Homo sapiens: one gene and its partner. The protein of the gene in region 2 purifies or fractionates together with the protein of the main gene of each other region. This does not show direct contact. Each region holds a gene or a part of one and is shown on either strand. Other genes may lie near its edges.

The links.
Region 1: the proteins of PRUNE1 (region 2) and RUFY3 purify together in Homo sapiens (affinity purification with mass spectrometry; one large-scale study listed by BioGRID and IntAct). This does not show direct contact.

What each region holds. Positions count from the first base shown.
Region 1 is NC_000004.12:70,801,744-70,805,560, reverse strand, and holds part of RUFY3 (protein RUFY3), read right to left. Parts: intron 2,606-3,817; coding exon 2,578-2,605; exon of another isoform or gene 2,577-2,577; intron 1,214-2,576; coding exon 1,145-1,213; exon of another isoform or gene 1,143-1,144; intron 1-1,142. UniProt on the Homo sapiens protein: ARL8 effector that promotes the coupling of endolysosomes to dynein-dynactin for retrograde transport along microtubules. Acts by binding both GTP-bound ARL8 and dynein-dynactin.
Region 2 is NC_000001.11:151,025,429-151,029,245, reverse strand, and holds part of PRUNE1 (exopolyphosphatase PRUNE1), read right to left. Parts: intron 3,732-3,817; coding exon 3,573-3,731; intron 2,014-3,572; coding exon 1,919-2,013; intron 461-1,918; coding exon 302-460; intron 1-301. UniProt on the Homo sapiens protein: Phosphodiesterase (PDE) that has higher activity toward cAMP than cGMP, as substrate. Plays a role in cell proliferation, migration and differentiation, and acts as a negative regulator of NME1. Plays a role in the regulation of neurogenesis.

The DNA of each region.
Region 1 (3,817 bases), on a different chromosome or scaffold from region 2:
TAAAATTTTGCATGATCACAGATGGTGCTATGCAGGTTGTGATCCAGAATTTGAGCCTGTTTCCTGTATCTCTTCCAAGCATGTGTTTCATACACTCATTTGTACATAACTTTTCTTGAGGATCTACTATGGATTGGGTACCATATTAGATGCTGGGGGATTCTGTGAACAAGACACAGTTCCAGCTATCAAGGGCACTCATTCTTTCTGAATACTTCCTTAACTCTGCCTACTCTAGGATAACAAACTGGGAAGATGCTCAGGCAGGCACCCTTGAGGATCGGGTGGAAAACAAGTGGTCTAGCAGGGAGAGCTCATATCCTGTTCTGAGCAGGATAAAGTGCTGAAAGGACTGTGGACTTTGGAGCGAAAGCTAGGTTGGAAGCTGGGCTTCATCACTTATGACTTAATTTTGGGAAATGTAGTTAGCATTAGATGTTCAACGTTCTTCATCTATAAAATGACAGCTATGAAGGACATAAGCTTGACAAGAACAGAGACTTGGTCTACTTTGTTCATTACTCTTTCTCCAGCACATTCTACACAGCAGGCACTCAATATTTACTTATACATTTCTATCTGCTTATTTGCTTTATTACATAATTATTTTTGTTTGTTTATTTATTTACTTATTTTTAGACAGAGTCTCGCTCTGTTGCCCAGGCTGGAGTGCAATGGTGTGATCTTGGCTCACTGCAACCTCCGCCTCCCGGGTTCAAGCGATTCTCCTGCCTCAGCAACCTGAGTAGCTGGGATTACAGGCCACCACGCCCGGCTATTTTTTTTTTTTTTTTTTTTTGTATTTTTAGTACAGACGGGGTTTTACCATGTTGATCAGGCTGGTCTTGAACTCCTGACCTTGTGATCGGCCCGCCTCGGCCTCCCAAAATGCTGGGATTACAGGCGTGAGTCACCGCGCCTGGCTATTTATGTTTATTTTAATGGGAATTTTCTGACATGAATTATTATGACTGAAAAAACAGGTACCCAGTAAATGCTTGCCCCTTTTGCTTTTCACCCCACTCCCAGCACTCTGCATGCACTCTGCACTCTATGCGGGAAAGTCCCTGTTACTCCTGGGGAGGGACTGGGGGCTGCTGTAGACATCCCTATGAAAAGCCTGTCCGTTTCTCATCACAGTTACCTTTGTTAGGCTGCCGTCTTCCTGGCATAGCTGACACAACTGTGGCTTTTCAGAGAGCAGCAGCTGATCCTAAACCACACAGGGAGCTGGTTAGTTTTTCTTAGTGCCAGAAATATTAGTACTTTCAGAATATGCATTTTTTACCTACAATATTAATATAATCACACTATAGACTATCTGGAAACTAAACCAATTATAAATAGGTAGTCCTACCACCATAATACAACTCGGATAATCCTATCATTATGCTTCCAGCTCTTAATTTTTATAATAACATGATTTCTAAAAAGAAAATTCAAACACATGCAAGTATAGAGTAAAAAGTTTTAACACTATCCCATTCCTCTTGTTCACTCTACCATCAAGAATGGAAAGCACTGGGGACTGGGCCTGGTGGCTCACGCCTGTAATGCCAGCACTTTGGGAGGCCAAGGCAGGTAGATCACTTGAGGTCAGGAGTTCAAGACCAGCCTGGCCAACATGGCAAAACTCCATCTCTACCAAAAATATATATATTAAAAAAAAAAAAAGTTGGACATGGTGGTGGGCGCCTGTAATCCCAGCTACTCGGGAGGCTGAGGCAGGGGAATCACTTGAACCTGGGAGGCGGAGGTTGCAGTGAGCTGAGATTGTGCCACAACACTCCACCCTGGGTGACAGAGTGAGACTCTGTCTCAAAAAAAAAAGGAAAAAAAGAATGGCAAGCATAGGGCATGGAAGCTCACACCTGTAATCCCAGCACTTTGGGAGGCCAAGGCGGGAAGATCACTTGAGCCCAGGAGTTTGAGACCAGCCTGGGCAACACGGTGAAACCTAATCTCTGCAGCCCTAGCTACTCGGGAGGCAGAAGTGGGAGGACTGCCTAAGCTCGGGAAGTTGAGGCTTCAGTGAGCTGAGATCGTCCACTGCACCCCAGCTTGGGCAATGTGAGTAAGACCTTATCTCCATTTAAAAAAAAAAAAAGGAAAGCAGTAGGACTTATTTTATTTTATAACCTAAGAGGTAAATGACAGGGTGACTCAGACACAGTAGCATTCACTGTCTTTCTCATGGGCTTATCATATACTATTAGATTAACAAAGTGTTTTACAATCATTTATGTTAGCTTATTTCTAAGTGATCAAAACATCTTTTTTCTCTCCATTTTATGTAAGGAAAAACTAGAGGAAAGGGACATAAAGTGAGCTCTCCTAGATCTTATGTCAGGGATAATTTAAAATAGGTGAGAACTGATGTTTACTTAGTAAACTGCTCAAAGCTGTGCTACTTCCTGTGTGAGCTTCAGGCAATACATATTTGTTCAGGGTATTGTTAGAAGGATGGCACACTGTATTCACTCATCTTCCGCCCATGCTACCTTATTTGCTGGCTAGGCACGGTACAACCAACTTCATAATTCATACAAGATGTTTTGAAACAGGAGGCTCTGTTACCTGTTCATCCATAGGGTGGGGTTGCAGCCTACAATGGAGAAGTAAAAAATTGTGACAAATAGGAACTTCATGTATTTTCATTTATATCATTTCAATAAAAAGCTCAGAATACAAACATTTTTTTCAAACAAGAAATACTGTAGGTCTTTTATATTACTTAGAACAACATAATTATTAATTTTGACCTCCAAGGAGAGGAAACTTTGCTTCTTAAAATGAATCACTAGAATCTGACCCTTGACTTATTATATAAGGGTTCCCATTTAAAAATAGATTTGAAGTTATATTTTACATTCCTTTTTGCTATCAAAATAGTTAGCATTTATGTTTCCCAATGTGTAAAACTCCAATGGTTCACTGGCCATATATTTTAGTAGCTTTTTTTCTATTTGATATTATGGAAATCTATCCATTATCCATTATCACATGTTGTGTATCAGTCCCAAATATTCTTAAGATGTGAGCTTTAGCAAATTAACCCAAGAAGGGGAAATGAATGAGACTGTCACCAGAAAACCCATTCAGGTTGAAATATTTCTTCATGAGGGACTAAGCTGAGCTAACTCCGATGTTCCAGCATGGACTAGAGCCTAAATGAGAGGTGAAGCAAAGCCCGCTCTCGGTTACAGGGAAAATGCACTACAGATTGCAATGGTTCTTATTCTTTTCACTTGAGTAGCAGTGTGACCACCAGACATACACCATGGGGTGACCAGGTTTTCCGATGTTCCTTGCCATCATAATCCCAGGAAGCCTGGTATGTCTAACGATTGCAGCTATGGCCAGAATAAGTCCTGGAAGTTGCTAATAGGTAGTGCAGAGCCAAAGGACTTAAAAACAGTAGACATGATAAACAGAGGCAACTTGGATAAGTCACCCAGCCTCTCTGCTTCTCAGTTTTCTCATCTGTAAAGTTGCATTAGGTACTTTTGTAAGGAATACTGAATCATAAGGAGATAATAAATGTGAAACAAATTCTAAGTTGCAGAGCACAATTCAGATATAAGGAAGCACTGTTCCATATTCTCAGGACCTAAATCAGAAGTTGGCATTTAAGACACTCCTGGTTGCTCAAGTAAATGATTTGATTTTAGTTTGGAACGAGGCTGACCCTGAAAGGCACCTGGAAGCCCAGGTTAATTTTATGGCCCTTCTAGTTCCCTTCTCTTTGCTTATGCCATTCTGTAATGTGAGATGGGTGATAGTTTAAAGTTAGCTCTGGATCAAACCATGCTCTTTG
Region 2 (3,817 bases):
ACTAGATTTCGTTCTTTCAAAGTAGGAATTGAATCTCTAGTTCTCTTTGGAATTCCCCCTTTCTCAACAATGCTATGATTAAGGATGTTCATTAAAAAAAAAAAAAGGATATTCATATAGAGAGAGAATGGGAAAAAGCAGAAAGGGGAGGAAACAGGTCCAGAAACAGGTCAAGGGACCTCATGTAAGTACATTAATATAAGAACCTAAGAGAGGTCCTTATAGGACAGCTGTAGAGCACAGAGGTACATACAGGCAGACTCTGTAAGGCTCTTAGGTTGGAGAAGGGACACAGACTCACCGTTGTTTGGAGTGCCACATGGGGACAGAAAATAGCCAACTGCCGCACTGGCTCATTGTGAGTGTTGAAAAAGATAGTCATGGCAACCAGGACATCATAGCTGTGAGCCTGGCAGAAAGCATGGAGATCTGCAAGGAGGTTAGACCTCTGCAGAAAGGCCTGAAAGGGAAGAAACGGAGAGGGATGAAGGACTTTCTCATCATCATCAATAAAACATCCTTGGGCCGGGCACGGTCGCTTACGCCTATAATCCTAGCACTTTGGGAGGCCGAGGCAGGTGATCACTTGAGGTCAGGAGTTCGAGACCAGCCTAGCCAACATGGTGAAACCCTGTCTCTGGTAAAAATACAAAAATTAGCCGGGCATGGGGGCATATGCCTGTAATCCCAGCTACTCAGGAGGCTGAGGCAGGAGAATCGCTTGAACCAGGGAGGCGGAAGTTGCAGTGAGCTGAGATTGCGCCATTGCACTCCAGCCTGGGGGACAAGAGCGAAACTCCGTCTCAAAAAACAAAAACAAAACAAAACAAAACAAAAAATTAGCTGGGCATGCCGGCACGCACCAGTAATCCCAGCTACTAGGGAGGCTGAGGCAGGAGAATTACTTGAACCCGGGAGGCAGAGGTTGCAGTGAGCTGAGATCATGCCATTCCACTCCATCCTGGGCAACAGAATAAGACTCAGGCTCAAAACAAACAAACAAACAAACATACATACATAACTGCTAGAGGTTTTTTGAGCATAGGAGATAGTACTTCAGTTAGGGTGGTCAGGAAAAACCTCCCAAAACAAGAGACATCTGAGCTGAGTACCTGAATGTTAAGAAGGAGCCAGCTTTACAAAGAAAAAAGCTCAGCTGGGAATGAGCTTAATGGTTCTGAGGAACAGAAAAGAAACCAGTGTGGCTGCAGTACTGTAGAACAGGAGTGGAGCTGGAATGAGATGAGGCCAGAGAAAAAGACAAGGGCCAGATCAAGCATGGCGCTGTAAACCACAGTAAGTCCTTTAGATTTTATTAAAAATACAATGAGGCCGGGCACAGTGGCTCACGCCTATAATCCCAGAACTTCGGAGGCCAAAAGGAGAACTGCTTGAGGCCAGGAGTTTGAGACCAGCCTGGGCAACATAGTGAGACCCCATCGACACATACATACACGCGCGCGCACACACACACACACACACACACACACACACACACTAGTTAGGTGTGGTGGTGTGCACCTGTGGACCCAGCTACTCGAGAGGCTAAGGTGGGAGGATTGCTTGAGCCTGGAAGGTTGAGGCTGCAGTGAGCCATGATGGTACCACTGTACTCTAGCCTGGCAACAAAGCATGACTCCCTTAAAAAAAAAAAAAAAAAATTAAAAAAGACCACTCTGGCTGCTGCGGGGAGAATGGTTTGTAGGGCTGCAAAAGCAGAGGCAGGGACACCAGTACTGAGGCTAATACAGCGGTGCAGTGAGAGATGCTGGACTCTGGTGGTCACAGTGGAGGTAGAGACAAAGATAGACACAAGATACATTTTGGAGGTGAGCCAGGAATGAGGTGCAAGGCCACATGCATAACATGCATAGCTAAAGGCTTTCTCTCCCCACCCACAGCCACAACTTGCTCTTACCTCCAAATCCATATATATTGCACTAATGGCCACCTTGACGCCTTGTCTATAGATAGTCTTCTGGTCTTTTCTCAGCATCTGCTCAGTGGTCAGTCCTAGAAAGCAGATGAGAGACTAGGGGTCAAACAGGGTAGGCCAGGGTCCCAAGACCAAGAAGGCAAGGACAGCCAGATGGGTCAAGGAAGGAAAAACAGCCTCTCTTTGGGGCAATGAATGGGGGAGATAATTGAAAATGTAATCATAGCCGGGCGCGGTGACTCAGGCCTGTAATCCCAGCACTTTGGGAGGCTGAGGTGGGCGGATCACCTGAGGTCAGGAGTTTGGGACCAGCCTGGTCAACATGATGAAACTCTGTCTCTACTAAAAATACAAAGAATTAGCTGGGTGTGGTGGCGGGCACTTGTAATCCCAGCTACTCAGGAGGCTGAAGCAGGAGAATCACTTGAACCTGGACTCTGTCTCAAAAAAAAAAAAAAAAAAGAAAGAAAGAAAATGTAATCACATAATCAAAAGCCATCTTAAATAACTGGTGACAATAGGTACCTTTAGAGCAAGTAACTTTGGAGAGAAGGATGAAACCCAGAACAGAGGCTTTTACTTTTTATCTTTCCCTCTTCCTATACTGTTTACATGTGAGTTCTTTCTTTCTTTCTTCCTTTTTATGTCAACAGGTGGTAGCTGAGTACAAGAATACAGTTTTTTTTGGGTTCTCTTCATCTTTTGTTTACTCACAAAATATTTCTTTTGCCTCCCTAACCAATTCTATAGATTTCACTCTGATAATTTAGTATACTCTCAGCATATTTTATATATATGTCCTGTATTCTCTGAATAGACTGGAACCTATGAGGCTCTTTTTGTTTTTTTTTGAGACGGAGTTTCGCTGTCGTTGCCCAAGCTGGAGTACAATGGCGCAATCTCGGCTCACTGCAACCTCCACTTCCCGGGTTCAAGCGATTTTCCTGCCTCAGCCTCCTGAGTAGATGGGATTACAGGCACACACCACCACGCTCAGCTAATTTTTCGTATTTTTAGTAGAAACGGAGTTTCACCATGTTAGCTAGGCTGGTCTTGAACTCCTGACCTCAGGTGATCTGCCCACCTCGGCCTCCCAAAGTGTTGGGATTACAGGCGTGAGCCACTGCGTCTGGCCCTTCTGAGGCTCTTAATACATTCCTCCTCATCCTAACCAAGAGCCAGGATAGAACAATCCAGTAAATGACTGATTATTTCATGCTTAGGCTAATATGGTACTTCATTTCTTTCTGGTATAAAATTTAAATAATTGGCCAGGCGCGGTGGCTCATGCCTGTAATCCCAGCACTTTGGGAGGCCCAGGCGGGCAGATCACCTGAGCTTCAGAGTTCAAGACCAGCCTGGTCAACATGGTGAAACCCGATCTTTACTAAAAATACCAAAATTAGCTGGGCGTGGTGGTGGGCGCCTGTAATCCCAGCTACTCGGGAGGCTGAGGCAGGAGAATCGCTTGAACCCAGGAGGTCGAGGTTGCAGTGTGCCAAGATTGTGCCACTGCACTCTAGCCTGGGTGGCAGAGCAAGACTCTGTCTCAAAAAAAAAAAAATAATATAATGAACAAGGCTTGCCTTTCTGTTTTCTTATCTGGGAGGCAGAAAAGTCAGCTAACATTTCATACCTGATACATCAAACTTTGCCTTTTGTAGGGAATCAAATATATCATTTCTCTTGGGTAGGTCTGGGAAAAGGGCCTCTAGTTTCTCCACATATTTGCTGTCCTTTGGGGTTGCCTTTCCAATTTTAAGGTCCATGTTGACACAGTCCAGGATGATGGTTCCTGTGGAGAAGGGAGATGGTGGAACTTGAATCCTGTGACCCTTCACACACAACCACCAGAACATATATAACCTTCACACCAAATGG